Regions from separate parts of the Homo sapiens genome. Here all the other regions are linked to region 4. The links come from fine-mapping of genetic effects on plasma protein levels. A gene starts in region 4. Each other region holds a variant in brackets. All regions are shown on one strand. Distances are from middle to middle. Region 1 overlaps LPA (lipoprotein(a)). Region 2 overlaps LPA (lipoprotein(a)). Region 3 overlaps LPA (lipoprotein(a)). Region 4 holds the start of LPA (lipoprotein(a)).

Evidence for each region. PIP is the chance, under the fine-mapping model, that this variant and not a neighbour inherited with it causes the effect. Protein levels are from antibody-based Olink assays in UK Biobank. Linkage for the fine-mapping came from a reference panel and not from the study's own genotypes, which makes the PIPs less certain.
Region 1: its variant is fine-mapped to the plasma level of the LPA protein (UK Biobank, PIP above 0.99).
Region 2: its variant is fine-mapped to the plasma level of the LPA protein (UK Biobank, PIP above 0.99).
Region 3: its variant is fine-mapped to the plasma level of the LPA protein (UK Biobank, PIP above 0.99). The variant lies in the coding sequence of LPA. If it changes the protein, the assay may bind it differently, which can mimic a change of level.

What each region holds. Positions count from the first base shown.
Region 1 is chr6:160,582,408-160,588,475 of GRCh38, forward strand. LPA (lipoprotein(a)) reads right to left here. Exons shown (of 39, transcript NM_005577.4): 25 at 4,042-4,223; 26 at 2,639-2,798. Among named protein-coding and RNA genes, the nearest start is that of LPA, 79 kb to the right of the region's middle. The variant C/T (reference allele first, on the strand shown) is at 2,638.
Region 2 is chr6:160,589,509-160,595,576 of GRCh38, forward strand. LPA (lipoprotein(a)) reads right to left here. Exons shown (of 39, transcript NM_005577.4): 21 at 5,846-6,027; 22 at 4,450-4,609; 23 at 1,436-1,593; 24 at 45-204. Among named protein-coding and RNA genes, the nearest start is that of LPA, 72 kb to the right of the region's middle. The variant T/C (reference allele first, on the strand shown) is at 2,473.
Region 3 is chr6:160,598,146-160,604,213 of GRCh38, forward strand. It overlaps LPA (lipoprotein(a)), which reads right to left. Exons shown (of 39, transcript NM_005577.4): 19 at 2,772-2,953; 20 at 1,355-1,514. Among named protein-coding and RNA genes, the nearest start is that of LPA, 63 kb to the right of the region's middle. The variant C/T (reference allele first, on the strand shown) is at 2,930.
Region 4 is chr6:160,661,647-160,667,714 of GRCh38, forward strand. It overlaps LPA (lipoprotein(a)), which reads right to left and starts at 2,629. Exons shown (of 39, transcript NM_005577.4): 1 at 2,520-2,629. The coding sequence starts at 2,568.

The DNA.
Region 1 (6,068 bases), 79 kb before region 4:
CTGATTTGATCTTGTTTTCCTCCTTACCACTCTAAACGTGTTATTTTGTTGTTTCTGATTTGATCTTTTTTTCTTCTTACCACTCTAAAGGTGTTATTCTATTGTTTCTGATTTGTGTTGTTTCTGATGAGAAGGCATCAGTCATTTGTGTCACTGTTACTCTATGTAAAGGTATGTTTTTTCCCTTGGGCTTCAAATAAGATTTTACTTTCTATCTTTGATTATGGACAATTTAATTATGATGTGTCCAAATAAATCATACAGCTTTACTTTTTAAAATCCTATATCTGATCCATTGAGCTTCTTGACTATGTGAGTTTATCATTTTTTCCATATTTAGAAAGTCATCAGCCATCACTGCTTCAAGTATTTTTTCTGTTCCAATATCTCTTTCCCTTCCTCTGTGACTTGCTTTAAACAAATATTAAATATTTTGATATTTTCATAGATGTCCTTGAGGCTCTGTTTATCTTCTCAGGCTTTGTATAAGCGTGCTATGGTTTGCACCACCCTAATATTTTCTAGTTAGCTTTATCATCTGTACTATCTAATATGATTATAAGGCCATGTAGTGATTTTCTCATTAAAGAGATGTCTTTTTTTTCAGTTCTTGACTCTCCATTTGGTCCTTTTACAATTTTTCTTTCTGTTGATATTATCCATTTATTTATTTCTTGTCCACGCTTTCTTTAAATCCTTGAACACAATTATGATACATACATTTTAAATCTCCTTGCCAATTCTGTTATTTTTATCATTTTTGGGTCTATTTGTATTGACTGATTTTTCTCCTGGTTATGGGTCACACTAAATGCTTTTTGTATGTTTAGCAAATTTTTAAATGTATGCCACACATTGTGCATACTATATAATTGAGCAATTTAATTTTGTTGTTTACCTCTGAAGAGGTTGTTTTCTTCTGACAGGCAATTAATTTACTTGGAGATCATTTGGATCTTTTTAGACTTGGTTTCTAAGCTTTTCTAGGGTGTTTCTGGAGTAGACTTTATTCTAGGAATGCATTAATTCTACTCCTGAAGTATGGTTTTTTGGGGTCTTTGCTGAATGCCCAAGATGTTCAATGAAGTGTCTCTCCTCAGGCTGGTCAGAGCTCAAATACCTCCCAGTGCTATGTGAGCTCTGGCATCTTCATTGAGCTCACTGTTCCCCAGCAGTTGTTCTTTCCCCAGTAGCTGTTCTTTGTTCTCCTTTCTCTCTGGAAACTCTTTCTGTGCATACACAGCTTTCTGTTCAGCCAGAGACTTGAAGAGACTTCTGTGTGTATTCCTGGAGCTCCTTTTCTCCACAAATACTTTCTCATTATTACCTAACCTAGAAAATCTCGGTTTTATTAGTAAACAAAACTCCAGTCTCTCTCCCCAGTTTAGCAAGACTGCTGTGGAATGCTTTGGTTAAAACTCTTTGCCCTTAAGTCTAGGAAGGGTAATTATGGGGTTGATCTTATTTGTTTCCCTTTCTAAACTATCTCAGGTTGTACTGTCTGCTGTTCAACATGTGCAAACAGTTTTTCCATATTATTCATACTCACTTATGGCAAGAGGCCAGTTTTTGTCAGACATGCATTTTTTTGTCCATGTACCTGCCCATTTTAATCACCACATCTGTTTACTTCCTGACTCTCATCTGCATTCCTGCTTTTACTCTGCCTGACAACCCATATCCCTTCAGAAAACTGGTGCTTAGAACCCAGTGTGTTCATACAGGCTAGTACTCATATATAAATATATGCACTCATTTCTATTTTCTTCTTCTTCTTCTTCTTCTTCTTCTTCTTCTTCTTCTTCTTCTTCTTCTTCTTCTTCTTCTTCTTCCTCCTCCTCCTCCTCCTCCTCTTCCTCTTCCTCTTCTTCTTCTTCTTCTTCTTCCTCTTCTTCTTCTTCCTCTTCTTCTTTTCTTCTTCTTCTTCTTTTTTTTTTTTTTTGAGATTGAGTCTTGCTCTGTCACCCAGGCTGGAGTGCAGTGGCATGTTCTCGGCTCACAGCAAACTCTGAATCCCAGGCTCAAGTGTTTCTCCTGCCTCAGCCTCCCAAGTAGTTGGAATTACAGGTACCCACCACCATGACCGGCTAATTTTTTAATTTTTCGTAGAGATGGGGTTTTGCCATGTTAGCCAGGCTGGTCTTGAACTCCTGACCTCTGGTGATCTGCCCGTCTTGTCCTCCCAAAGTGTTGGGATCACAGGCCTGAGCCACTGCACCCAGCCTGAATTTGTTACTTCTGATTCGTGTCAAAAATGGCAAACACAAATTTCACTTCAGGGAATGGAGGATAGAATGATAGAATTGCATGGTTGAAAGACTGCATGGACCTTTAGTGGGCATTGTGGAATGATACTTTGTCTCAGCATTTGGTCATTTGATCTCCTTAGCTTTACATTAATGAGACTTCACCACCTCCATATATCCTGCTGCTTCCATCAAATTGTTATGAAAGATAGCAATCCTAAAACTTCTCTTCATTCAGACCTTTTGCTCAAAAGTAAGTTTCCTGAGACATTTTGCTACAAACTCTGAGTCTATGAGAAATTTGGACCTAGGAAGTGAGCTTGTAGCATGGGCCAGCTAAGAGAAATTTTAGTTGACTATTGTTCCTTTTATGGCTAACATGATAGACATA[C/T]GCATTTGGATAGTATAATGGGATCCTCCGATGCCAATGTGGTGTCATAGACGACCAAGACTGACATGTTCTTCCTGTGATAGTGGTGGAGAGTGTGCCTCGATAACTCTGTCCATCACCTCGGTAGCAGTCCTGGACCCCAGTGCTGTTTTCAGTTGGTGCTGAAATTAAAAGAGAAAATCAAGCTCAGTATTGCCTAGAAAAGGGAAATGTGAAAAAAATTATGACACACAAAGTGGAATAATCTGAGGATTAACAATTTACACTCTTCTATATTAGCATGCAAATTGAAATGTAGAATAAAAATACAAATAGACTTATAGGATTCTAGAAATTTAATAAGTAGTCATAAATATTTTAATTCAACCCTGGAAAACAAACAAACAAAGAAACAAACAAAAAACAGATCAGAGTGCCTATACTTCAAAATTACACTCATGTGAATGGTCTTTTGCTTACACCTCTTCTGGGTGTTCATGAGAACAAGGCAGGAGACCAGGGTGCCATGCATCAAGCTGTTCAGGCTATAGGTGGTGATTGGCTGTTAGTGGGGGGTATACATGAAACCCTTGCACACTAGACCACTGCTCCTCCAAAGCAAAAGCCTTCAGATTCTGGGGTGTGGGGCAGAAAAGGATCTTGCATCTAGGACTTGTAGGTAAAGACACATTGCCTCTCAGGGAGAAGGAGTACAGGCCAAAATTTTATAGCCTAGGAGGGGAGACAGGGAATCTTGGGCCCAGGATCCCTCATTACAAGAAAGCTGACATCCACTACTCTTCTTCTCAAAAAACAACGGAGATAAATGTTCCATGAGAAGCAGGGATGAGAACACTGAGAAATCCCTTCCCTCAAATCCTAGGTGTGGAAGGCATGCCCAAGATGAAGGTAGGCTGGGGAGATAAACAATTTGGTGGCTATGTACTGCTTCAAAGTCTCAGGACAATACGGATCTAATGAAGACATGTTAGGTTTCTCAAGAACAACAGCCTCAAAAATGGCATTCCTTCAAAATGGTAAAGCTGAAGACTGCAATAAACACTGCCTACTTGAAGAAAGGGCTGGACAGGCTTAGGAGCTTGGTATATCTTCACAAGTTTGGCAGGATGTTAGAATATCCATCTTGGCTAGGACACTAATATGATTCGTTTGATAACAGGGAAGTGATAAATCCAGTGTCCTAGAGGGTCTGTGCCCCTTTTAAAGACACCATCCCTCACAAGGCACTCAACATCCCAGCTCTGGTCCCCCCAGAGAAGGCACTGAAGCTTCCTTCCCATTGGCTGTCCATGACTTCACCTTCGACTTCCTGTGCAGCATGGAAGTTTTCTGCATCACAAAGATTTTGCAAATCTTTTTATCCCAATGTCCGAGGGTATGGTTGTCTGACTGCAGGCTTCTTACCTTCTTCAGAAGGAAGCTCTGTGCTTGGAACTGGGACCACCGTGGGAGTTGTGAGGAGAGTTGATTCCATCACTGGACATTGCGTCAGGTTGCAGTACTCCCATCTGACACTGGGATCCATGGTATAACACCAAGGGCGAATCTCAGCATCTGGATTCCTGCAGTAGTTCCTGGTCAGGCCACTGCAAATTCCAAAACAATACAGGTCACCAGAGATTGGAGAAGATACAGCACCACCTGGCACCCTCTATGTTTTCTTGTAACAAAGTGTAAACAAGCAAATTTGAAATATTCTCACTAAAGTCCCATAACACTCACAAATGGTCCTCAACTTCTAAACAACTGTCAACATTTCAAAGACAGCTTATGATTCTTATTGTAACACATTCAAAGTAATCTATGCTTTATAAGAAAACTGAGAGAAAACATCAATGTGTACCAGAAAGGATCAGAATACCCTCCTTCTACCTTCTGCCAAATACATTCCTTTGGATTAACCGAGAGGGATTTTGAAGTGTGTCTTGGAGATTGTTTCACGTACATACAAATGTTTATCTGTCAGGCTGTCTGTAAGTCTCTATAAAACTGCATGATCTATTCAGTGTTTGATTTGCTGATTTGTTATTTACCTAAGCAATCCATCCACATGATCTACATTCATGAATTTATTTACATACAGTTGATCTCAATATCTACTTCTCAGCTTTCACACCTGGAGGATGCTATAGCAATGGCATCTCTCTCCTGTTACTCATGATGGTGATGGATATGCTCCCTCCTTGGTCTGTCATCTGTTTAGCCAGACTTTGGCCAATCATATAGACTTTTCAAAGAACCTAACTTTCTGTTTCATGGATTTACTCCTTTGTTGGTCTATTTTCTTTTCCACTGAATGTCATTGGTTTGGACTATTTCCTTCCATCCTCTTTCCTTGTGCCTTATTTGCTTTTCCTTGCCTAGATATTTAAGCTGTGGTCTTAGATCAACAGCTGTCAAAGCTGTTGTTCATAGGAACCCCCTTTTTTTCTTTTTAGCTTTGAATTGAGGCAACTTAACTATGATATATCCCAGTAAATCATAGAGTTTTGCTCTTTAAAATTCTATACCTGAGTCATTTAGCTTCTTGACTATGAGTTTCTTGTTTTCTGTATATTTGGCGTGTTGCGAGCCATCATCGCTTCAAGTATAATGTCTGTCATGATATCTTTTTCTTCTCCTTCTGTGACTTGCCTAACACATATATTAAATGTGTGGATTTTTCCTAGATGCCCTTGAGGCTCTGTTGATTAATAGGTTCAGTCTTTGTGTGTGTGTGTGTGTGTGTGTGTGTGTGTGTGTGTGTGTGTGTGTGTTTCTGTCTGTTGGTCTGTCTGTCTGTCCTGTGATTTGTGTAGCTCCTATTGAATTATTTTCTAGGTCACCTTTCCTACCGTAATGTCTAAAGTGATGATAAGGCCATCCAGTGAGTTCTTCATTAGAGATGTACCTTTTCTCAGTTCTTTAATTTTCATTTGGCTCTCCGGTTCTTTTCTTTTCTCTTGCTATTCTGCTTTTGTTTCTCTCATGGTCAGCTTTTGCTGACATTTTCCTGAAACACAGTTCTCAGAGGTGCATTTTAAATGTTCTCACCAATGTCATCAATTCTATAATTTCTGGGCCTGTTTGTGTTGAGTGATTTTTTCTCCCAGTTATGTATCACAGTGAAAGCTTCTTGTGTCTCTATTAAATTTTTAAATAGAAGTAACGCAATAGGAATGCCATATAACTGAGCAACTTGTATTTGTCCCTTGCCTCTAAGGGGGGTTGAGTTTTTTTTTTCTTGTGGAATGCAGTTAATTTACTTGGAGATCATTTGGATCCTTTTAGACTGGCTTGGAAGAAGGGTTGTTGGAGTTTTTCTGGAGTCACCTTGATTCTAGGAATAAGATGATCCCAATCCCAAAATACAGCTTTCTTTGGTCTCTACTGAATGCCCAAAATGTAGTGAGGTGTTTCTCCTCTGAGTGGTCAGAATTCAAATATCCCCC
Region 2 (6,068 bases), 72 kb before region 4:
TAAGTGGGTGGCTGTTTCTCTTGGGAGAAAACTCAAAGACATACCCATTTGGGTAGTATTCTGTGGTTCTCTGATGCCAGTGTGGTGTCATAGAGGACCAAGACTGACATGTCCTTCCTGTAACAGTGGTGGAGAATGAGCCTCGATAACTCTGTCCATCACCATGGTAGCAGTCCTGGACTGTGGGGCTTTGCTCCGTTGGTGCTGAAATTCAAAGAGGAGAAAACAAACTGAGTAATTTCCAGAACACAGAAGCATGAGAAAAAAAATCCATGATAGAAACAGGACATCATCTCTGAAAATGACGACCATGCTCTGTTCTACATTAGTAGGCAGATGGACATGCCAATAACAAAGCTCAAAGATTCATAGCATTCTGGAACTTCAATGAGTTTTTAGAAAGATTTTCTTTAAAACCTGGGCACCAAAGGACAGATCAGAGTGCCTATCAGTCAAAATTGCACTCATGTGCCTGTTCTTTGGCAAAGATCTCTTTTGGGTGTTCCTGAGAACAAGGCAGGAGACCAGAGTGCCATGCATCAGGCGGTGCAGGCTGTAGGTGGTGGTTGTCAGTGGGGGCAGACATGAAACCGTCACACATTTCTCCAGAGCACTGATCCTCCAAAGCCAAAGCCTTAAGTTTCTGGAAGATGGGGCAGGAAGTGGTCCTCCATCTAGGACTTCCAGGCAAAGACACATTGTCTCTCAGAGAGGGGTACTGGCCAAAATTTTATTCCCTTGGAGGGACGGCGGGAAATCTTGGGCCCAGGATCCTGCATTGCAACAAAGTAGACATCCACTACTCTTCTTCACAAACAGCAACACAGATACGTGTTCCATGAGAAGGAGGGGCAAGAACACTAAGAAATCCCTTCCATCAAAGCCTAGGTGTGCAGCACCTGCCTAAGATTAAGGTAGACAGGGAGATAGAGCATTTGCTGGCTATGTACTGTTACCTAGACCCAGGAGGATATGGAACTAAGTAAAGTCATATCAGGTTTCTCAAGGATGACAGACTCAAAAACCACATTCCTCTGAAACTGTAAAGCTGAAGTTTGCAATGAGTACTGTCTACTTGAAGAAATACCAGGAAAGGCTCATGATGAGCTTGGTAAATCATCACAAATTTGGCAGGATGTTAGAATATCCATTTTCACTAGGACACTGAAATAATCTATTGAATAACCAGGGGAGTGGTAAATCCAGTGCCCTAGAAGGTCTGCACGCTTCCTAAAGACACCACCCTGTCACGGGGTGCCAAAAATCTCAGCCCTGGTTCCCCCAGAGAAGGCGCTGAGGCTTCCTTCCCATTGGCTGACCCTGAGTCCACATTCAGATTCCCGTGCAGCATGGAAGGCTTCTGTATCACTAAGATTTTGCAACTCTTTTTATCCCAACGTCCAAGGGTGTGGTTGTCTGGCCAGAGACTTCTTACCTTGTTCAGAAACAGCCGTGGACGTCGCAAGGACACTTGATTCTGTCACTGGACATTGTGTCAGGTTGCAGTACTCCCATCTGACATTGGGATCCATGGTATAACACCAAGGACTAATCTCAGCATCTGGATTCCTGCAGTAGTTCCTGGTCAGGCCACTGCAAATTACAAAACAATACAGTTCACCAGAGATGGGAGAAGATACAAGGGCACCAGACATCCTCTACATTTTGTTGTAACAAAGTGGTAAAAAGTGACTTTGAAATATTCTCACTAAAGGTCCTGTAACAATCACAAATCGTCCTCAACTTCTAAACAACTGTGAACATTTCAAAGACAGATTATCATTCTTATTGTAACACATCCAAACTCGTCTATACTCCATAAGAAAACCGAGAGAAAACATCAATGTGTACAAGAAAGGATCAGAATACCCTCCTTCCACCTTCTGCCAAATATGTTACTTTGGATTAACTGAGAGATTTTGAAGTGAGTCTTGTAGATTGTTTTATGCACGTACAAATGTTTCTCTGTCTGGCTATCTGTATGTCTTTCTATAGGAGTACCCAATCTATTCAGTATCTGGTTTGCTGATTTGTTGTTTACCTAAGGAATTGATCCACATGATCTACATTCATGAATTTATTCACATACAGTTTTTCTTGATATCTTCTTGTCAGCTTTCAGACCTGGAGTATGGTATAGCAATGGCTCCTCTCCCCTGTTACTTCAAATGGTGATGGTTGTACTCCCTCCTTGGTCTGTCATCTGTTCAGCCAGACTGTGGTCAATCACATGAATCTTTTCAAAGAACCAACTTTCTGTTTCATGGATTTACTCCTTTGTTGGTCTATTTTCTTGTTCACTGAATGTCATTGGTTTGGACTATTTCCATCCATCCCCTTTCCTTGTGTCTTATTTGCTTTTCCTTGCCTAGATATTTAAGCTGTGGTCTTAGATCAACTGTCAAAATGTTTGTTCATAGGAACCCCCTTTTTTTCTTCTTAGCTTTGAAATCAGACAATTTAACTATGATG[T/C]ACCCCAGTAAATCAGAGTTTTGCTCTTTAAAAATCTATACCTGAGTCATTGAGCTTCATGACTATGAATTTCTCATTTTCTGTATGTTTGGAAATTTGTCAGCCGTCATGGCTTCAAGTATAACTTCTGTCACATTATCTTTTTCCTCTCTTTCTGTGACTTGCCTAACACATATATTAAATGTGTGGATGTTTTCCTAGATGTCCTTGAGGCTCTGTTGATTAATTGGTTCAGTCATTGTGTGTATGTGTATTTGTGTCTGTCTGTCTGTCTTGTGGTTTGTCTAGCTTTAATTGAATCATTTTCTCGTTCACCTTTTCCTACCATAATATCTAAACTGGTTATAAGGCCATCCAGTGAATTCCTCATTACAGATATAACTTTTCTCAGTTTTTAAATTTCCATTTGGCTCTTCAATTCTTTTCTTTTCTGATATTATGCATTCATTTCTCTCATGGTCAGCTTTTGCTGACATTTTCCTGAAACACAGTTCTCAGAGGTGCATTTTAAATGTTCTTGCCAATGCCATAATTTCTATTATTTCTGGGCCTATTTGTGTTGAGTGATTTTTCTCCCAGTTATGGATCACAGTGAAAACTTCTTTTGTGTCTAGTAAATTTTTAAATGCAAGTTGCACTCTGGGGATGTCATATAACTGAGAAACTTGTATTCGTTCCTTACCTCTAAGGAGGGTTGAGTTTACTTTTTTCTGGAAGGCAGTTAATTTACTTGGAAATCATTTGGATCCTTTTAGACTGGCTTGGAAGAAGGGTTGCTGGAGTGTTTCTGGAGTCACCTTATTTCTAGGAATCCGAAGATCCTACTCCCAAATTATGGCTTTCTTTGACCTCTACTGAATGCCCAAGATGTTCAGTGAGGTGTCTCTCCTCTGAGTGGTCAGAACTCAAATATCCCCCAGTGCTATGTGAGCTCTAGCATCTCCATTGAGCTCACTGTTCCCTTGCAGTTGTTCTTTCCCCAGTAGCTTTTCTTTATTGTTCTTTCTTTGTGAAAACTCTCCTTGTGCATACGCAGCTTTGTATTTAGCCAAAGCCTTGAGAAGACTTCGGTGTGTATTCTTGGAGCTCCTTTCCTCCACAAATCCCCTCTCATTCTTAGCCAGCCTAGAATACGTCAGATGCCTGAGGCATCACAAACTCCAGTCTCTCTCCTCAGTTAAGCAAGACTGCTGTGGTCAGCTGGGCTCCATCTGCTTGCCCTTCAAGGGTCTCAAGGAAGGATGCCAGGGACATGATAAGGTTGATCTCCTTTGATTCCCTTTCTGAATTTTCTCAGGCCTGTCATGTCTGTTGTCCAACCTATGAAAACACTTTTCCTATGTATTTGATAGTCCTTCATGGCAGAAACGCTGACGTGGTCTGAACTGGGTTTCTGTCCATCTTCCTGCATGTGTAACTCTTCAGAATCTTTATACTTCCTGACTCTCAGCTGCCTTCCTACTTTTGCCCCTCATGTGCTGGCAACACATAGCTCTTCAGATACCTTGTTCTCAGAACCCAGGTACAGGTTAGAGGAGAAAGTGATTGGAAGATCTGGATGTCAACATAGATATCCTTTATTTGTTGCCCAAGATGAACATGGCTAATACAACCTTCACTTCAGGACTTGGAGATTAGAATGACAGAAATCCCTGGTTGAACTATTGCATTGGTCTTTAGTGGGCATTGTGGAATGGTGCTATTTCTAAGCACGTGGCCATGTGTCCTGAGCTTTCTATTCATGAGAACTCACCACCTTCAAATATCCTCCTGCTTCTGTCAACTATGAGAAAAGAGAGCTGGCCTGACATTTCTCTCCTTTCAGACACTGTGCCTGAAGAAAGAAGCCTGAGACATTCTACCCAACATTCCAGATCTGAGATAAATTTGTCATAAGAAGTTAGTTGGAAGCATGGCCCTTCCAAGAGAAATGTAAGGGGGCTGCTGTCTGTCTTTGAAGAAAACTCAAGGTTGTACCCATTTGGATAATATTCTGTTGTCCTCTGATGCCAGTGTGGTGTCATAGAGGACCAAGACTGACATGTCCTTCCTGTGACAGTGGTAGAGAATGAGCCTCGATAACTCTGTCCATCACCATGGTAGCAATCCTGGACCCCGGGGCTTTGCTCCGTTGGTGCTGAAATTCAAAGAGGAGAAATCAAGCTGAGTAATTTCTAGAACACAGAAGCATCAGAAGAAATCTGTGACTGAAACAGGATCATTGTCTCTGAGAAAGACTACCATGCTCTGTTCTGTACTAGCAGGCAGATGGACATACCAATAATAAAACCCAAAGATTCATAGCATTCTAGAACTTTAACGAGTTCTTAGAAAGATTTCCTTTAAAACACAGGCACCAAAGGAAAGATCAGAGTGCCTATCAGTCAAAATTGCACTCATGTGCATGCTCTTTAATATAGACATCTTCTGGGTGTTCCTGAGAATAAGGCAGGAAACTAGACTGCTATGCATCAGGCTGTGCAGGTTGTAGGTGGTGATTGACTGTCAGTGGGGACAGACATGAAACCGTCACACATTTCCCTAGACTGCTGATCCTCCAAAGCCAAAGCCTTCAGCTTCTTGAAGATGGGGCAGGAAGCGGTCCTGCATCTAGGACTCGTAGGCAAAGACAAATTGTCTCTCAGAGAGGGCTACTGGCCAAAATTTTATTCCCTTGGAGGGATGGCTGGTATCTTTGGCCCAGGATTCTGCATTGCAACAAAGTAGATATCCACTACTCTTCTTCTCAGAGACCAACACAGATATATGTTCCATGAGAAGGAGGGGCAAGAACACTGAGAGATCCCTCCCATCAAAGCCTAGTTGTGCAGGACTGGCTTAAGATGGAGATAGGCCAGAACGATGGAGCATTTGTTGGCTATGTACTGCTACCTGGACCCAGAAGTATATGGAACTAAGAAAAGTCATATTAGGTTTCTCAAGGATGACAGACTCAAAAACCGCATTCCTCCGAAACCGCAAAGCCAAAGATGCAATGAACACTGACTACTTGAAGAAATACCATGAAAGGCTTATCATGAGCTTGGTAAATCTTCACAAATTTGGCAAAATGTTAGAATATTCTTCTGGCTAAGACACTAAAATGATCCTTTGAATAACCAGGGGAGTGGTAAGTCCAGTGCCCTAGAGGGTCTGCACCCTTCCTATAGATACCACCCTTTCACAGGGTACCAAACATCACAGCTCTGGTTCTCCCAGAGAAGGCGCTGAGTGTTCCTTCCCAGTGGCTGACCCTGAGTCCACATTCTACTTGGAATTGTGTGAGCATGGAAGGCTTCTATATCACTAAGATTTTGCAACTCTTTTCATCCCAACGTCCTAGGGTGTGGTTGTCTGGCCATAGACTTCCTACCTTCTTCAGAAGAAGCCTCTGTGCTTGGATCTGGGACCACCGTGAGAGTTGCAAGGACACTTGATTCTGTCACCAGGCATTGTGTCAGGTTGCAGTACTCCCACCTGACACTGGGATCCATGGTGTAACACCAAGGGCGAATCTCAGCATCTGGATTCCTGCAGTAGTTCCTGGTCAGGCCACTGCAAATTTCAAAACAACACAGGTCACCAGAGATGGGAGA
Region 3 (6,068 bases), 64 kb before region 4:
TGAGCTCTGTCACCTTTATTAAGCTCACTGTTCCCTTGTAGTTGTTGTTCCTCAATATATGGTGTTTTTTTGCCATATTTTCTTGTGGAAAATCTTCTATGCAAGTGCTGCTTTATGTTTAGACTAACACTTGAGGAGACTTCTATGCCTGGAGCTCCTATCCTCCACAAGTCCATTCTTACTCTTAGCATGGCTAGAAAATCCTAACTACCTGAGTAATCCCAAAGTCCAATCACTCTCCTCTGTTCAGCAACATGGCTACAGTCAGCTTGGGCTCCATCTCCTTGCTCTTCAGTGCAGGAAGGGTCTCCTTGAAGAAAGCCAAGGCATTGATGGGTTGATCTCATTTTCTCCCTCTTGCAATACTCTTGGTCCTCTAGCATCTGTTGTTCAACATGTGGAAACCGTTTTGCCGTGTCTTTGGTAGTCACTTATGGCCGAAAGACTGGCCATAGAATGGCCAGATCATGGCTTCTGTCCATCTACCCGCCCCTTTTACTTTTCAGCATCGCCCCTTTGCTGACTCTCATCTGCTTTCCTGCCTTTGTTCTTCTCCTCTGGGCAGACCGTATCTCTTCAGACCACTGGTGCTCAGGACCAAGTGTGTTTGTACCCATTGAAAAAGAAGTAGATAGAAAAAGATTTGCCTCTCCATAGATGTGCAAGTATCAATTCCCTGTGACCCAAGATGCAAAAGGCCAACACAACATTCACTTCAGGGACTAGAGCTTAGAATGATAGAATTCCAAGGTGAAAAGGTTGTATTAACCCTCAGCCGATGTTGTAGAAGGATACTCTAACTCTTTGGTCATTTGTCATCCCGGCTGTTTTATTAATAAGATCTTCTCAACTCCATATATCCTTCTGCTTCCATAAAACTAGGAGGAAGGAGAGCCAGCTTAAAAAATGTCTTCTCAGCCAGGCACGGTGGCTCACGCCTGTAATCCCAGCACTTTGGGAGGCTGAGGCAGGCGGATCACGAGGTCAGGAGACCAAGACCATCCTGGCTAGAACAGTGAAACCCTGTCTCTACTAAAAATACAAAAAATTAGCCGGGTGTGGTGGTGGGTGCCTGTAGTCCCAGCTGCTAGAGAGGCTGAAGCAGGAGAATGGTGTGAACCCGGGAGGCGGAGCTTGCAGTGAGCCGAGATCATGCCACTGCACTCCAGCCTGGGCAACAAAGCAAGACTCTGTCTCAAAAAAACAAAGTCTTCTCTAAGAACTTTTGCTCACAGGAAATGTTCCTCTGCATCTGAGCCAAGTTGAGTCCTGAGCAGTCACCTTGAAGCATGACTCTTCTAACAGAAACTTCCATTGGCCCTTCCTTCGCTTATGGTAAAGAACAAAGACGTACGCATTTGGGTAGTTTTCTGGGGTCCGACTATGCTGGTGTGGTGTCATAGATGACCAAGCTTGGCAAGTTCTTCCTGTGACAGTGGTGGAGTATGTGCCTCGGTAACTCTGTCCATAATGGTAGTAGCAGTCCTGTACCCCGGGGGTTTCCTCAGTCAGTGCTGAAATTAAAACAGAAGACATCAAGCTTATTATTTCCTAGAACAGAAAAATACAGGAAGCCATTTATGACATAAACCAAAAAAGAGTCACTGAGATTTACAACCATTCTCTATTCTTTATTAATAGGCAAATGGACATGAGAAAACACACAAACAAACACGAAAGTAAGAGATGCCTACCATTCTAGAACTGTAGTAAGTTCTTAGAAATATTTCATGTAAAACTTAGTGGAAAAGAAATATCAGATTGCTTCTCATCGGAAACTCCACTAACATGGAAGCTCATTTCTAGGAATCTCTACAGAGTGTTCATGACGACATGGAACAGCATAGAAGAAAGGGTGATGCATTTGGCAAAGCTGAAAAGCAAGTCTCCAAGCATTAAAATGGTTTTTTGGGGAGGAGGCAAGGACATATAAAAACCTTGCATGTGTCCCTAGATGATTGCTCAAAAAAGAAAGCATTAAACTCCTGGTGATGGGGCAGACAACAGTCCTGCAGCTAAAACTGTAGGCAACAACACTTCACTTCTCAGGGATGAGTGGAGGCCAAAAGCTTATCACCTACAATAAGATAGGGAATCCTCTCGTGCCCAGCATAATGCATTGCAATAAAGCAAAAGTCTACTACTCTTTTTCTCCAGACCCCCCGCAGGTACAAGTTCCATCAGAAAGAGGCAAAAGCACACGAAAAAATCACTCCCTTCAAAGCTAAGAACTGCACAACCTGCCTCGGACTGAAAAAGACCTGAGAGATAGAGCTTCGGGAGCTCATGTACTACTCCACAGACCCAGGGAGATATGGAATTAATGCAACCCAGTTAGGTTTCTCAAGGATAACAGGATCTAGAGCCACATTTCTCGGAATCTGCAATGCTGAAGATTGCACTGAATGCTGTCTACTTGAAGAAATCCCTGGAAAAGTTTACTGGCTTGGAAAGACACACACATCTGACAGCATATTACAATAAGAATTTTGTCTAGGACAATGAGATAGCCCCTTTTACAATGAGGGGAGTGGTGAAGTCGAGCACCCAGAATGGTTTCCGCCCATCCTAAAGACACAGCTCGCACAGGTTGCACCAAAAATCACACCTCTGGCTCCCCCAGAGAGTGCGCTAAGGCTTCCTCCCACATGGCAGACCCAGAACCAACACACGAGAACCAGTGTAGCACTGAAGGGTTGTGCGTCAGTGGGGGTATCCATGGCTTTTCATCCCAGCATCCAAGCAGGTAAATGTCTGGCACAACTTCTTACCTTGTTCAAAAAAAGCCTCTAGGCTTGGAGCCAGAATAACATTCGGAGGGACGAAGGCAGTCCATTCTGCATCTGAGCATCGTGTCAGGTTGCAGTACTCCCACCTGACACTGGGATCTGTTGTATAACACCAAGGGGCTGCCACAGGATCTGGATTT[C/T]GGCAGTAGTTCTTGATCAAGCCACTGGAAATTCCAAAAGAATACACATCACAAAAAATGGGTACATATGCAGGAACACTGTATATTTTGCTACAACAAGGTCATTACTGGTGCCTTTGAAATATTCCCAAAAGAGATACCATACAATTGCCACAATGACAAATGGCTCTCAATCTCTAATCCTCTCTGCACATTTCTCATACTTAATATATTATCACTTTTTTTAAAGAAAAAAAATCTAATGCAGCACACACTTCCTAGAAACACTGAGATTATACATACATGTGGCCAAAAAGGGATCAGAATATCCTCCTTCTGCCTTCTGCCCAATCCATCTCTCTGGAATAACTGGTATGGATTTTGACGTGTGTATTGTGGAATTGGTTATGCACATACAAAAGTATCTCTATCTGTCTAGCTCTCCGTATCTCTCTGTGTAGGACTTCATATAGTAATGTGCGAGTTGGAACTAACACATAGTTCTCCAGAGAAAAAAATGGCATCCAGCATGATATCCTTCCCAGGCCAGCAGTCTCATTCAATGTACTCAAAATGTAGCCAAAAGGCTCTATGTTCAGCATGTAAAACCATTGCACAAAAAGTATTCCTGTCTGTCGATACCGTATCAGGTGGGTCAAGTGGGTTTCTTTCTGCAAGACTTCTCAAAGCTGCCCTGGAAACCTAGCTTTCAGGCAGGATGCAGTATCTCTAGGATGGGTTCCTGGTCAGGACTTCCTCTCCTGCTCTCAGTCCATCCTCTGCTGGCCACAGCAATTCCGGGACTGAGGGAATGGGGGATGAGTTGAAAGAACAGTGGCACTCATGGCATAAAGGGAGACAGCTGGGCAGACTATGAGGTCTGAAGAGGTCGGGCAGCTATGGAGGACCTCAGGCTGGGGAAATCTCAGAGCATTCACTCCTCCTTATGCCTCCTAAGAACATTGCTCCAACCTCTCAGAATCCTCCCATTCGTGACCTGTGGCTGCCTGGGAAAACGGGAAATGTATTATGGGCCATGGGGATCCAACACTGTCTCTCTAGAGACTCTACACATGTGACCTAGTCTCAAGCCCAGACCCTCCATTCCAGGAAGCTGGTTCAATGAGCAACTGGATGTGCTCAGAGCTTGAGTACTTGAAAGACTTCTTTTTCTTCCTTGGCTTCCCTCTTTTGGATACATGGAAAATTCTTATTATATAATATCCCTCAGAATTCAAAATTTTATGATTGCTTTAGGATTTACAATATCCCTTTGGACCCACAAATTCAACCTTTCATTAATATTACATACCATCGTGGATAAGGTAAGAAACTTACAATGGTACACTTCCAATTATTCCCCACATGATTTAGTCTATATGTTCAAATTTTTACCTCTACATATGCTAAAGTTAAATATATTGCTATCATTTTGCTTCAAGTAGTCAACTCTCATTTAAAAAGATATAGAAATTTGATCAAGAAAATATTTTGCATTTACATCTACATTTGCCATTTGCTGGGTTCTTCATTACGTGGGCTGCAGAAAGTTCTCCTCTTGAACTATTCTTCTTCTAGCTAATTTTCTTTGGGCAACATCTCTTGTTACACAAGCCTGCTGATTCCAAATTATTAGTTTTTGGTTTATTTATTTGGGGCAGTGCACAATATGCATTTATCCAACATGGATGATCTTCAAGGCATTTTATTGCTGGATGTAGCATTCTCATTTGATCTCTTTTTTTTCTAGTTTATCATTTTAATGATATCCCCTGTTAACTGGGTTCCAGTGTTTCTGATGAGAATGCATTAGCAATTTGTATCACTGTTCTTCTAGCAAGACACAGCTCTTTTTCCTCCAGTTTCTCATGAGATGTTTCTTGTTATTATATCTTTGCCTTCTGACTGTTGAACGGTGATGTACAAAAGTGAATCATACAGTTTTTTTTTTTTTTTTTTTGGAAATTCCCTGTCTGATTCATTCAGCTTCTTGAATCTGTGGTTTTTAATATTCTTCTTATTTGAAAAGTTTTTAGCTATCCTTGCTTCCAGTATTTGTTCCTGTAGCAATCTCTCCTTCCTCTCCTTCTGTGACTTCCTACCCACATGCAGGAAATCTTTTTATATTTTCCCGCCTGTCTGTGAGGATCAGTGGATTTCATTTTTTAGTATTTGTGGAGGTGTGTGTGTGTGTGTGTGTGTGTGTGCGTGCATGTTTCTAAGCCTGTGCATGTGTGAGTATGTGTGTATATGTGTGTGTCATTTGTGTATGTGTAGCTGGTTCTGTAGGTGGTATAAAATTGTTTTTCAGTTAGTTTTTACTTCTGAAACATCTCACTCCATTGGGAATACATCCAGTAATTTTTTCATTTAAGACATACCTTCTTATACTAGTTCTTTAATTTAATTTGGCTCTTCTATACTGTTACTGTCTCTTGATATGGTATCTGCTTCATTCCGTATTCATGTTTTCTTAAAACCTAAAACTCAGTTGACATATTGATATGTCAAATTTTTTGCCATTCTAATCATTTCTGTCATTTCTAGGTCTATTTGTATTGACTGATTTTTCACCTGGTCATGGTTCATACTAAAAGCTTCTCTATGTGTAGTCAAGTTTTAAATTTAGAACTCACACTGTGAACACCACATAGCTGAGCCACTTGACTTTGTTGTTTACCTCTAAAGAGGGTTTTCCTCTCCCAGGCAGTTAATTGACTTGGAAATGATTTTAATGCTTGGAGACTTGCTTTTCAGTTTTGCCAGGGTTTGTCTAGAGCTGCCTTTTTTTCTAGAAATTTACTAATTCTACTCCTAAAGTATGACTTTTCTGGAGTCTCTACTGTATTCCCAAGAGGTTCAGTGAGGTCTCTCCTCCAGCTGGTCAGAACTCCAGTATCCCAGAATGCTATGAGGGCTCTGTCCTCTTTATTGAGCTCACTGTTCAATCGCAGTTGCTATTCCTCAGGATATATTCTTTTCTCTACTTTCTTGTGGAACCTTTTTCTGGGCACATGCAACGTCATGTTTAGCCAAAGATTCGAGGAGACTACTATGCGTGCCCCTGGAGCTCCTTTCATCCACAAATCCATTCTCATTCTCAGCAGGCCTATAAAATCCTAGCTACCACAGTAGTCCCAAATTCCAATCTCTCTCCTGC
Region 4 (6,068 bases):
GATTATTGAACAGGCATTGGCTGATGCATTCTGAACCTAATCCACTAAAAAGCACTTGATAGATATATCAAAATATCATTGAGAAATAGATATTTTAGGCCCATATCCATGTCTTCACCCCGCACTGTTTCTCATTTGAACTCTCTTTTCCAGGAAGAGTTGTGCTTGGGTAAATTCTATAGCTCACAGTGTGACTTCAAAACACACAATAAATTAATAAGGTGCTTCCTACAGTGAGTTCAGTTAAACATTTTGAAGAGTGTTTTTGAAATGTAGCAGAGCAGGCTACAATTGATATTCAAAAAGAGGAAACTTCCATTTATTTCCCCCTTTAACTAAGTTACCTGTAACTGTGTCATTTTATTATGCTTCATAGAGCATCACTGCTGAGATCCCCTCCCCAGCTCATGTTGCTAGGAAATATCCCAAAACAGAATCAATTTTTCTTTTTTTAACCTGATGATTTTTCCACAATCCTTTTGTTTCTCTGATTCACCTCCAGGGCTCATATGGCAATGGGGATTTAATAGGGTTTATTTGTTGGTGAAGAAACATTAAACAAATCTTTTAATAGGAAAAATACTTTTATATTATAGGCAAAATGTAGATGTATATTGCTACTGAAGTAAATGTATTTTATTAATGGTGTGAGAATTTCTTCCTCACTGTGGTGTGTGAATGTGTATGCATATTTGCATGTGTAAAAGACTTAGCAATTTGTGAATAGAAGATGTTTCTCCGCTTCTCACTGAGCATGGCTGTAAAAGAAACTTTTTCCTCTCCCCGGGCATTCCAGCACACATTGGAAAGATAACACGTCCACAGAAAGCCTGGCTTTCCAAAAGAGCTTATCAGAGAATGTGCCCCCCAGGTCGATTAAAACATATGTTAATCCTGTGGCAGAGAAGTTTGTTCTAGCCTTTGGGTGTAGCCTGCTGAATAAGTTCACAGTGATCTACATCCTAGTTTCCATGGGCTGAAATAGAATATTCATATCCCCTGCACTCCCTACACACACAGACATAGACACCAATTTCCCCAAAAAACTCTTTGCTTAATCTTCTCCTGCTCTGTATTTTCTTTGATATTTTCTTGAATGGCTTCCACTAAATTCAAATGTGTTTGACTTTAAAGTCAACTTGTAAAATTTTATCTGGTAATTTATAGATTAAATTGCAAGCATCTACCTCCCTTTCATCAGACTCTCCCTGCAGGGCAAGTTCATCTAACTATGTATGTGCTTCAAGATGGAACTCCTGAGTTCACAGGTGATTTATAAACCAAAGCATGCCCACTACAAAACTCTCACCCTCCAGAGATTTGCCTCAAGGGACAACACCCTGCTCACAAAGGCACCAGCAGGCAACTGCTCAACTACCTGGTGGATAAGGTGCCCAAGCTAGCATGGACCCCTGAATCCTTGCTCGCCTCCTCTGTTGCCTTTTAAAAGTGCCACTTTCTGCTCCTAAAGTGAAGTAGTACGGCAGGACTGCTGCATTTCTTCCCCTAAGCTAGCTTTGGAAGCAAATCACTTTCTTTATACCAGACTTCTCTCTTCTTAATTGGATTCTGCAAGTGGCAAACAATTAACCTGCTCTTCAGTTACATTGGAATGTGTTTAGATTTATTTTTTCAAATGTTGGAACAAAGATGAAAAAGTGAGAAGAGCCCTAGATTTTTTCTTGGAAATCTGGCTTAAATCCAGGTTTCTTTATTTCCTTGATTTGGGAATTTGGTCACGAGACAAATAACATGATTTTCCTAAGTCTAGATTTCTTTGTTTATAAAATGGGGATGACTATGCTACCCTACCTATACCATGAGCTAAATAAGCTAGTATTTGTAAAGGACACACACTTACATTCACAATCACACACGGTGTGTATGTGTGTATGTATGTATAAAAATGTGGGGACCTAACCCACTCAACAAATACCCTGAGTATTTGTTGAATCATTATATGCGTATATCATCTGGCAAATGGATGTGTATAATTTCTCCAGGGATAAGAAGCAAATGTATACCGATGGAAAGCCTTACTCAGGCCATAACAAAGAGAGAAATGCTGAGTCCCACTCCATGAACAGGTCAAGGAACCAAACATATTCAAAGAGTTATTTCATTGTTTCAACTTGCTAGTGAGGGGAGCATGGCACCTGAACAGAGATGATATAAATTAATGAAACTGAGAACCAAGCGAAGAGCTTAGCCATCCTTTGCATAGTTAGCTACAATGGCTATTTATTTTTCAGCCAGACTGGCCATCATGTAGGCACACTCTTTTAGATTAGAAAAATCAACCATTATTTTTTCTGCCCATTCATTCCAGCACCGTGACAGTCTTCACGGGGAAATTAAACTTATTTTTTTAAGAATTTTTCAATCATATACAAGATTTTGAACTGGGAATTTCATGAATCAAAAATTAAATGAATTGCACATAAAGCCATGGCATATGTATTTTTACTACATTGTGGGAGAAAAAATAATTCTTATAATTTAAAAAAACTATGTCTTACCTGATTTCAGAAATAAAAGAAGTAGAAGAACCACTTCCTTATGTTCCATTTTGGGACTGGCCAGCAGTGCCCAGAAAGTGTGTCCCAATCCCAGGACATTGTTGACTTACATGAGAGTAAACGCACCCACAAACCAGATAGTCAAATTAAGTTAATGATTCTCTCAGAGACCCATGCCACTGGCTCAGCAGGGTTCAAACATTACCTTGAATATAGAGTCTTATAAAATATTTGAGAGTGCAATGTCAATAGATGCTGGGAAGTGGTGAAAGCCATTTCCCCCCTCAGCTGCTCCACATTGCCTTTATGTCTCCTTACTCCTTCCCTCACCCCTAGACCTTCATCTTTCCTGATTAGTCTTGTTTCCTCCCCTCTTCTTTCATTCTCTTTCTTTTGGATAAAATAAAATCATAAAAGTAGCTCATATTTGCTGGTAACTTCCATGACCAGACCCTCTGCCAAGTGCTGCACATCCATAGCCTCCCTCAAGCTTTCCAACAGGCAGTGCTGTACGAGGAGGGGGCTGAGGCCTTCCCGAGGTTGTGTCGCTACCCAGGGGTGCAGCTGATAGACACAACCCTTTCAGGTCTTAGTTTACGAGCAAGCTAGGTATAAATGTTAACATCTCCACATCCTATACCAAACTGTGCCGAAATGACAACATAAGTGAAAATCTTTTATTATCTTCAAAATTTATTTATTCCTAGTGAACTCACATGTTTTCTGTAATTATAAATTATGTTATAAGATATCAATCCTTCCAGGAGGGGGTGGTGGCTCATGCCTATAATCCCAGCATTTTGGGAGGCCACGGCAGATGGATCACCTGAGGCCAGGAGTTTGAGACAAGCCTGGGCAACATGCCAAAACCCTGTCTCTACAAAAAATACAAAAATTAGCTGGGTGTGGAGGCACATGCCAGTCATCCCAGCTACTAAGTAGGCTGAGGCACTAGAATTGCTTGAACACAGGAGATGGAGGTTGCAGTGAGCCAAGAATGTGCCACTGCACTCCAGCCTGGGTGACAGAGCAAGAATGTCTCAGGAAAGAAAAAAAAATAATAAATACCAAATAAAATTAATAAAATATCAATCCTTCCTATTCTAGTAGTTGTGGCTTAAATAAATAAATAAATATTTTTAAAAATAAAACATAGGGTCGAGTGCGGTGGCTCAACTCTGTAATCCCAGCACTTTGGGAGGCCAAGACAGGTGGATCACAAGGTCAGGAGTTTGAGACCAGCCAGGCCAATGTGGTGAAACCCCATCTCTACTAAAAATACAAAAATTAGCCAGGCGTGGTGGTGGGCACCTGTAATCCCAGCTACTAGGGAGGCTGGAGTATTCACTTGAACCCAGGAGGTGGAAGTTGCAGTGAGCCAAAATCACGTCAGTGCACTTCAACCGGGGTGAGAGTCTCAATAAAATAAAATAAAATAAAATAAAATAAAATAAAATAAAATAAAAGCATAGTATCAATCTTTCCGCAAATGAATTCATGGTGCAATCTTACATTTTCGTTCTCATGAAGTAAAGCAAGAGTGGTAGAATTAAGTGGAAAGAGTCTATCTCTAGTGTAGTCACGTCAGTGGTTGTGTCAAGATGGTTAGGAGGCTCCTCCCGTTTAAAACAGTATCCAAGCCCCAGTTGTAAATCAATTGGGGAGACACGCCAACTCTGATCATCAGCAATATCTGAGCTCCAGTCTCAGATATTGTGTGCAGTTAGTCTCTGTCCTGTACCCTCTACCTCCTTCCCTACCAGAAAAATCACCACTTTAGTCCCTGGCCACCGGGACACCCCAGGAGGGTGAGTGGTCTGAGGTAGTTATGGCACTTATGGCTCCCTTGCTGCTGATCTGGAACTCAAGCCCCAAGAAGTCCCCTTGGATGATCTGAATATACATTTGGGACAGATCTAGGGAGTTTCTGAGCAACACTTAGACTGGGGTCTTCCATTGATTAAATCCTACTTGAATTCGCTACTTTGGGACTCAAGTCTAAGGGACTGAGACTGAGACAGGAGAGCACAAGACTAACTTTGGTCTCTTGATCTTTTCTTACCTTGCAACTGTCAATGCCTCCAGCCAAATGCCCAGCACAGAGCTCAGTGGATTTGACTCTTCCATTCAGAAACTCATAGCGATTGCACACTTCATTCTCAATCACAGGGAGCTGGGCTTCCTTGAGAAAGCCAGCCCCAAAGGTACCTGTGTTTAAAAAGATGAAAGAAATGGTAACTACGTCCACAACATGTTCACAAGGAAACTCCAGAAGAACAGAGCAGTGGTGATGGACCTCCTGTCTGTCCGTGAGGCTGTAGAACACAAGGCAGCTCCCAATGCTGCCAGACTCTCTGAACCCTGGAGAGTGTAAACGTCATATAAGAGTCTATGTTCCAAAAACCTGGATTTAACAATCTGAGCTTTGTCATGGTGCTTTGCGGTTGGTTGTTGTTTCTTTACCTTTTTCTTTGCTTTTAAAACCATAAAGAATAATGTTTAAATGTAGAGTCTGAGAAATGCAATTGCTATTGTTTTTATATTTTCAGACTTTTTGTATGCTTCTTTCACTAATTACATCATATCACAAAATTTCACACCCTGATTTTTTCACTCAACATTACATAATGAGTTTTGTATAGTGCTATGATCTTCATAACTAATATTTTAAAGGAGAGCTACTGATTAATGAGCATGAGGTTTCCTTTGGGGATGAGGAAAATATTCTGGAAATATGATGATGGTTGCACACCACTGTGAATGTACTAAATGCCACTTGGTGGTACCCTGCAAAAATGGTTAAAATAGTAACTCTTACGCTGTGTACATTTTATTGCAATAAAAAAGAATAGTCATCATTTACTAAGCATTATCCTTTCCAGGCACAAGCTTATAATGTGGTGTATCTCACTTCATCCTCACAACAGTCCTATGAAACAGGCAGTTCCATCACTCCTGCTCTACAGTTAAGGAAACTGAGGTGTAAGGAGGTTGTCTAGTTCAACCTGAGCCTGGGTCTGCGGAGTCACTGCCCAAATGCTTCCTCCCCGTGCGCGTTGGCCCCCCTCTTGCTTCCAACCCTCCACATCTTTGTTCATAAAGTTCATTCTTATTCCTTAATATTTTCTGAGCCTAAGTTCCCATAAATTATATAGACATATTTCTGTCTCCCAATAACACTGCCAATTTATTTTCTAGAAGGTTATGACAGTGTAAAATGTCACTAGAAAACAATCACTTCACCACACTTGTATGAGTGTTCAATTTTTAAATATTAGCTAATCTAACAGGTTGAAATTGTCCTGATTCATTTTCTAATTTATACTTCTTTGACAATTTGGGAGAGTGAAGATTCTCCTGGTTGTGTTTATTCTTTTGTGAAAAACTGCTTTATTTTCTTTGCCAAATTCAAATAGAACGGTTGCAAAATTGCCAGAGGAAATGCTGTTTTTCCAGATGGACACACCCAGGGATGTTTCAGTGTTCTCACAAATAATCCAGTTTTCTAATTTTGCAAGCCCAGCTTTCATTAGAATTTTGCAAAAATCC